2 linked regions of the Homo sapiens genome follow. The protein of the gene in region 1 interacts with the protein of each later gene in a biochemical or structural test. Each region holds a gene or a part of one and is shown on either strand. Other genes may lie near its edges.

The links.
Region 2: the proteins of WDR43 (region 1) and UTP15 form a complex in vitro, tested with the Homo sapiens proteins (one study listed by IntAct).

What each region holds. Positions count from the first base shown.
Region 1 is NC_000002.12:28,939,526-28,943,443, forward strand, and holds part of WDR43 (WD repeat-containing protein 43), read left to right. Parts: intron 1-1,935; coding exon 1,936-2,049; intron 2,050-2,786; coding exon 2,787-2,856; intron 2,857-3,918. UniProt on the Homo sapiens protein: Ribosome biogenesis factor that coordinates hyperactive transcription and ribogenesis. Part of the small subunit (SSU) processome, first precursor of the small eukaryotic ribosomal subunit.
Region 2 is NC_000005.10:73,568,435-73,572,352, reverse strand, and holds part of UTP15 (U3 small nucleolar RNA-associated protein 15 homolog), read right to left. Parts: coding exon 3,749-3,918; intron 2,857-3,748; coding exon 2,678-2,856; intron 1,768-2,677; coding exon 1,642-1,767; intron 1-1,641. UniProt on the Homo sapiens protein: Ribosome biogenesis factor. Involved in nucleolar processing of pre-18S ribosomal RNA. Required for optimal pre-ribosomal RNA transcription by RNA polymerase I.

The sequences.
Region 1 (3,918 bases):
TTCCTTCATTTCTTCCTTCCTTTGCTGATATTTTTAAGTGCCTTCTGTAAGCCAAGGGCTATGCCAGGCATGGGGATTCAGCAATGTACCAAACACTCTGGTCCCCATCTTCTTGGAGCTCATAGTCTGAACAGGGACACAAAAGGGAGGTGATAAATTGGAATGCAATGACCTTAAACCTTGCTTTACTAATTTTTGTGTCTGTCTGCTGTTTAAAGTTAACATTTGAATGAAACACTTTTTTACTAAAGTATTAGAAATAGGAGTGCAGGTAAAGGCTAATCAGAGGTAAGGAGTGGAGTCTGGGCACGGTGGCTCACACCTGTAATCCCTGCACTTTGGGAGGCTGAGGCGGGTGGATCATGAGTTCAGGAGATCAAGACCATCCTTTCTAACACGGTGAAACCCCGTCTCTACTAAAAATACAAAAAATTAGCCGAGCGTGATGGCAGGTGCCTGTAGTCCCAGCTACTCGGGAGGCTGAGGGAGGCAGGAGAATGGCGTGAACCCGGGGGGGCAGAGGTTGCAGTGAGCATAGTTCATGGCACTGCACTCCAGCCTGGGCGACAGAGCGAGACTCCGTCTCAAAAAAAAAAAAAAAAAAGAATGGAGTCCGTTTTTCTGTAGTGCTACAGGGACAGATAAAAGAATATCAGAATATCACGGGGGTAGGGGGTGAGGTGGGGAAGCCAGCGTTGTTCTTTTTCTTTTTTTTTTTCTTGAGACGGAGTTTTGCTCTTGTTGCCTAGGCTGGAGTGCAATGGCACGATCTTGGCTCACCGCAACCTCCGCCTTATGAGTTCAAATGATTCTCCTTCCTCAGCCTCCCGAGTAGCTGGGATTACAGGCACATGCCACCATGCCTGGCTAATTTTTGTGTTTTTAGTAGAGATGGGGTTTCTCCATGTTGGTCAGGCTGGTCTTGAACCCCTGACCTCAGGTGATCTGCCCGCCTCAGCCTCCCAAAGTGCTGGGATTACAGGCATGAGCCACCGCGCCCAGCTGCCAGCGTTGTTCTTAGAGCCCAGAGATGGGAGGAAAATTAACCAGAGGCAGGTATTTGAAGGCAGTGGGACAGGAAGAGGCTTGTTCTGGACTTCCAAATGGCTTCCTTTAAAAAGAGGCATTTAAATTTTTCCAGTTGCTTTTTATAGTTGATCTAGGATAGAAAAATTATGGCCATCATGGTTTCCTTTCATATTGTTAAAAATGATCAAGGGGACTTTAAGATTTTATGAGAAAGGCAAATTACCATTGTTTTATTCCTCAGTGAACCTGGAGGAGCCAGACCTTTATCAGTCGTGTTGTGTTCCAAATATAACAGCTATATTCTCAATACAAAAGACTCTGATGAGAGCAACATGGGAGCAAAAAAGAGAATGTCCTACTTTCATTTTTTAAATATGTTTCAGAGGACTCATTAACAGGAAGTATATTTAAAATGCAAAAGGTCAACTTTGTACTTTGTTCTACTGGTCTCTGGGAGCTGGGAAAAGGCTTCTCTGCCTCTTTGGGGCCTTACAGTAAGGGTAGATAATATGCTAGCATCAGAGGATAAGATTCAGAGGAAAGCCTCTTTAGCCTGGAGATACGTGGTAGAGGCATTTTTAATTTCCTGTCTACTTTATATGGGATATTGGCCTTATCTGAAATAGTTTGATCAATACAGAAAAGTGCCACCTTGCAGTTTCACTCTCTTGCCCTTATATCATTTTTTTTATAAGCCTATTATTTTTTCCTCCTAGGACATTGAGGGTCTTCTGTGAAAATTCGTGATGTTGTTAGGCTATGTTGCAGGTAGCCACTGCCACTGGGAGTACTTGTAAGCAGATGTGTGTGGTGCAGTGGCTAAATACTGAGGCATAGCTGAGCATGATTTGCGTGTTCGTCATCTCTAATACGTTAATAGTGCCAAATGATCATTTTTTTCTCTAGTTGCCTGACCTGGTACCCCAGCTGGGGACACTCTACCAGTTAATGGAAAGCAGAGTCAAAACTTTTCAGAAACTTTCACACCTTCATGGAAAGCTTATTCTTCTAATTACACAAGTGAGTAAATCATATTGTTCTGGGCTAAAACTTTTGGACATGGTAGGAATGGAGAGAGGAATAAGGATCATTTTGAGACAGGGTCTTGCTCTGTCGCTCAGGCTGCACTGCGGTAGCATGATCATAGCTCACTGCAGCCTCGCTCAAGTGCCTCCCAAGTAGCTGGGACTACACGGATGCACCACCATGCCTGGCTAATTTTTAAATTTTCGTAGAGATGGCATTGCCTAGGCTGGTTTTGAACTCCTAGGCTCAAGGGATCCTACCACCTTGACCTCCCAAAGTGCTGGAATTACAGGCGTGACCCACCACGCCTGGCTGAGAGCTCCCTGTTTCAGTAAGAAATTGGTAAATCAGGATCTAGTCTTTAACTTGGAAAGCTTATCAGTTTGACAGTAAGAAAGTTTAGTTGTGTCTGTTTCAACTTTTACTCAAATCTTTTTCTCACCATTGTGTTTCAGTTGTTATACAGTTAGTAAGTTATAGGATATTTATACAGTTAAAATTTTGGCACAGAAAGATATTCTAATCACCTCAGAGTTTTTCAGCTTTACAGAGTAATTCTTTCCCTCTTGTATTTGAAGGACTTTTTTGCTCTGTATTGTATGAAGGTCCTCCATTATGGTGGTGGAGGGTGAGTTAGCAGCAAGCAGTGGGGAAGGTTGGGTATGCTGGTGGTCGTGATACTTGGGATATGTTTACACTCTACTTCAGAACAGTACTTTATCTTCTTCCAGGTAACAGCATCAGAGAAGACAAAGGGAGCAACTTCCCCTGGACAGAAGGCAAAGTTGGTGTATGAAGAAGGTAAAGACTGGGGGAATGGGATGGAGTCTAGAATTATAACATTCAGTTTTCAGTGACTGAGTTCTGTTATCTTTTTGAAAACGTCAACATAAGATCTTCCTTTGGCAAGCCTTCTCTAATTAAAATAGGCAAGTCCGTGGCAAAAATCTGTAATTCATCAGATAAGAAAAGAAAAGGCACAAGTATAATACAGTGACAAAAAAGGGCATTAGTTATGGAAGATTTTTTTTTTCTTTTCTTTTTTTTTTTTTTTAAGACAGTCTCAGTCTGTTGCCTAGGTTGTAGTGCAGTGCTGTGATCACAGCTTGCTGCAGCCTCAACCTCCTGGGCTCAATGCAATCTTCCTGTCTCAGCCTCCTGAGTAGCTGGGACTACAGGCGTGCACCACCATGCCCGGCCAACTTTGGTATTTTTTTGTAAAGACAGAGTTTCACTATGTTGCCCAGGATGGTCTCAAACTCCTGGGCTCAAGTGATCCCAATGTGCTTGGATTACAGGTGTGAGCCACCATGCCTGGCCAGGTATGGAAAATATTTAAATAGAAGAACATTATATGAACAAACTTAGTGTAAATACATTTAAAAGTCTAGGTGGTATAGTTAATTTTTAAGGAAACATTAATGACCAAAATTGACTTTAAAAGAAATAAAAAGTTTGAAAAAGCCAGTAGCTCTAAAATTGACTTTATAAAACTTCTCACAAGATATGCCCAGATATTTTGAAGGTTATTTGATCAGGCCTTCAAAGAACAAATCTTTTCTTTTCTTTTTTGCACAGACTCTCTCTGTTGCTCAGGCTGGAGTGCAGTGGCTCGAGGTCAATCATAGCTCACTGCAGCCTCAAACTCTTACACTCAAGCGATCATCCTGCTTCAGCCTCTAGAGTAGCTGGGACTGTTGAGCCACCATGCCTGGCCAATTTTCTTTTTTTAAAGGTAGAGATGAGGTCTCTTTGTTGCCCAAGCTGATCTTGTACACCGTGGCCTCAAAAACGGTCTTCTCGCGTCAGCTTCCCAAAGTGCTGGGAATAGAAGCATGACCCACAACACTGGGCTGTCCTTTT
Region 2 (3,918 bases), on another chromosome or scaffold:
AAATCCTGGATGCACCACTTCCTGGGTCATTGGTAATAACAGTTCCTACCTCACAGAACTGTTATGACCATTAAATAATATTTGTGAAGTGTACATAAATTCCAGCAAAATAAATGTATAACTGAAAGAGTCCATTTTAAGAAAATTATAATAAAATCATTTTTTAAAAGAAATTCTATATAGCAGTGGAAGTGAATAATGTAGATCTGCAGCAAAATATCAAGCAAAAAAGTCTAATATGGAAAGACAGAAAAAGGGATGGAAGGGGAGACTGAAATCTTGACTGGGGAACAGGAGTTGGAACCCAACTCACAGTTCCCACCTCTCCACTCCTATGTGGCACCTCACAAGAGGGATCACAGTTGAAATCACTGATCTAGTCCAACCCTCTCATTTTCAAGGTCTAGAGACCTTAAGGGATTGCCCGAGGTCACAATTAGCTAGTGACACACAGTGGAGATCAGCACACAGCTTTCTATTCTCCCTGTTCAACATGATATTTTTTCCATTTGTCAGAATAACAGCAAGAAAAGTAGACACATCTGACATTATCAACTTTTTTCTTTTTTTAATTAAAGATGGAGTCTTAGAGTCTTGCTATGTTGCCCAGGCTGGTCTCAAACTCCTGGACTCAAGCTATCCGCCTGCCTCAGCCTCCCAAAGTGCTAGGATTACAGGCGTGAGCAACCACATCCCGCCTCAACTTATTTTTAAATCAAATAGGTACTGGGGAAAAGAATATAAAACAGAGTAATTTCTAGCCAGATTTTAGAATTAAGAAAAAAAAAAAAAGGAGGTACACACAGCAATATATATGTTGTCAAGTATACATACTACCTATACATTCTTCTAATATGAACACATTTTTACTTTATTTACAAATGAAAAAAGCCAATTTACTTCTTCCACTGTAATTATGAAAATGCAATATGTGCAAAATGAGAAAAACATCTCAGTCCCAACTTGTTGAAAAATGTACCAAGGCCCCTTTTGAGGCCACATTATCTCCTTTCTCTAGTACTAGCAGCTATTTGCTGGGTAGTGGCATTTCAATCAAGAGAGTCACAGAAAAAGAGACAAGCCTACTAGATCTCAAATAACTGATTTTCAAAAGCTGCTGCAGATCTCTTAGGTAGGAGTAAAAGGAGTATGAGCTAAATTTCTGGGGTTAAATAAGATGGCACAGGGCTAAATACATAAGAGCTAAATTTCTGGGGTTAAATAAGATGGCACAGGGCTAAATTTCTGGGGTTAAATAAGATGGCACAGGGCTAAATAAATAAGATGGCACAGGGCTAAATACACAGAGCTCTCGAGTTCTGTGATTTCAGATCTGCCACTTACCACTTTGCCTTGAAAAATAAGTTAAAACTTTTATTTCATTGCTGTAAAGTAGGGAAAAAGCTAACTACCTTGTAGCATCATCTAGGGCATTAGAGTTCATATGTAACAGCACAGTGCCTGGCTCACATTAGGTACACAATAAATGATAACTGCTTGCCAGTCCTACCTATCAACTGTTTGAACAAAGACTTAGATATGCAATTCAAATGCACACTGATAAATTACAAAGAGCAACTGATTTTAAACAAACGTGATTCAAAACCAACAATATTGGTGAAAGCTATTTTTAAGAAGTACCTGCTGACACCAGAAGACCTCCAGAGGGGAAAAGTAGGACACTCTCCACTGGCTGCCCATGCTCAACGGAGAGAACACTCTCACTCGTTCGTGCATCAAACATCTTCACAGTATGATCATATGATCCTAAAATGTCAATTTTTGAATTTTTAGTTTGACTGTTTAAAACAACAAAAACTGTGTGTATCCAGATATAAATTTTAAAAGGAAAAAAAGCTTAGATGGAGTTTTAAAAAGACATATATGTATATTCATGAAGACACAGGACCTCCAAACCATCTACTACTGATCGTGTCTGAAGAAGCACTACATAATACTATACAGAATCTAACTTGCTCTGATCTTAAAATATTTCTTTCTTTGGACTACTGTCACTACTGAATCATCTGGAAATCTTTGTAAAGGCACCCACAAAGGCTAAACTGCACTCTTTGTTTCTTGGCTGCTTGAGGCAGGGTACTATACATTACAGTTCTGAGAGTCTATTATGTTTTCAAGACAGCCTGATTTTTCCAAACACATTTGGAAGACATGAACAATCAACAAAAGAAGAATAAGAAAATAAAAAACAATTGGAAGCCAGGCATGGTGGCTCACACTTGTAATCCCAGTCCTCCGGGAGGAAATTGAGGTAGGTGGATCACTTGAGCCCAGGAGTTCGAGACCAGCCTGGGCAACATGGCAAAACCGTCTCTACAAAAAAATACACAAAGTAGCTGGACGTGGTGGTGGGCACCTGTAGTCCCAGCTACTTGGGAGGCTTATGTGGGAGGATCACTTGAGCCCAGGAGGTAGCAGATGCAGTGAGCTATGGTCACATCACTGCACTCCAGCCTGGGCAACAGAGTGAGACCCTGTCTGAAAATAAATGCAAACATACATACATAAAAATTAATTTAAAAACTGAAGAATTAATCAGAAACATATTCCTTTATAAAAAAAATTTAAACCCCTCCATCCCAAAAGAGTCCCATAGCAACATTAAAGTACATCCCCGTGAGATTATTTGCTTCAGGAGGGAATAGAGTTCACCAACCTGTTATAAAGAGATCCGGATTAAGTTTGCTAGCACATCCACACCTCACATAATCAGAGTGTTCTTTAAATGTCAAAATTTCTTTGGAGTTTGGAATATCCCATAATTTAACTGTATAATCATCAGCCCCAGAGACCACGTGATATTTGTCAGCTGTAAAATCTACTGTATGAACTGCTCTGAAAGATTGAAGGTCAGTATATTAAAAAGCAAGAAAATTATTTTTCTGATACCTTCTAACATAAAATGCTCCTTTTTCTCAGATTAAAAAAAAAGCAGCTGAGTTTCAGGGAGTCTTCATAGGGGGAAATCATGAAAGAAAGAGAAAACTTACAAGTGTTTGCCCCCAAACCAATTAAGAAGTGTAAATACTCCTATATTGTAAAGTTAAAAAAAATTAAAGGATAGCCTTAAAATTATATTTTCTAGTATATAAACAATTCCACTTAGCTGCTGAATATGGAAGCAAAGGCACTTTAATTTTTAAAATTTCAAAAAGTTCTTTAAAAAACTCTAAAGAGATTTACCACTAAATAGAATCATGTTACATAAATTTCTGTTAAATTTTAACAAATTTCAGCACGGACATTGGCAATCCTGAAAACAAAGTTATAATATAAAATTGTGATGGCCACTTAATTTATTAAGGGGCAAAACACTATAAATTCAAGAAGAAAATCCACCTTCCTACTTGACTTCAACATAAGAGCCTCTAAGACAGTACAGGCCTATAGAGCTGTCATTACCAGCTGTAAGGTTGTCTTCAGGTCAGTAATTCATAATCTCAGCTGGGCCACAGACCCCACTAAAGTTAACCAAAAGCTACAGAGTAGCTCCCTAGATAAACGTGTATTTCCTAAAATATCACATACAATTCTAGGGAATTCATAAGCCCCATGAAACTGGACCACGGAACCCAAGTTAAGCACTCTTAGAACAATCAGGAAATATAGTACCTATAGGCAAATAATCTCCATAAAACTGATCTCTATCTTTTTAACCAAAGTCCAGAGAAAAAAAGAGCTTACAACAAAATAAAACCAGAACACACAGAAACCAACTGTCTCTTACTTTGTATGGCCTTCAAACTGCCTGAGGGGAGCCCTCCCACTTATATCAAAAAGTTGAACTCCACCATCTTCACTGCCAGCCACAAGCAATCTACCATCTTGTCGAAAAGTAGCACAGTATGCTGTGTCTTTAAATCGAGAAAAGGTTTTTATAGGTTCTTGGGAGTATCG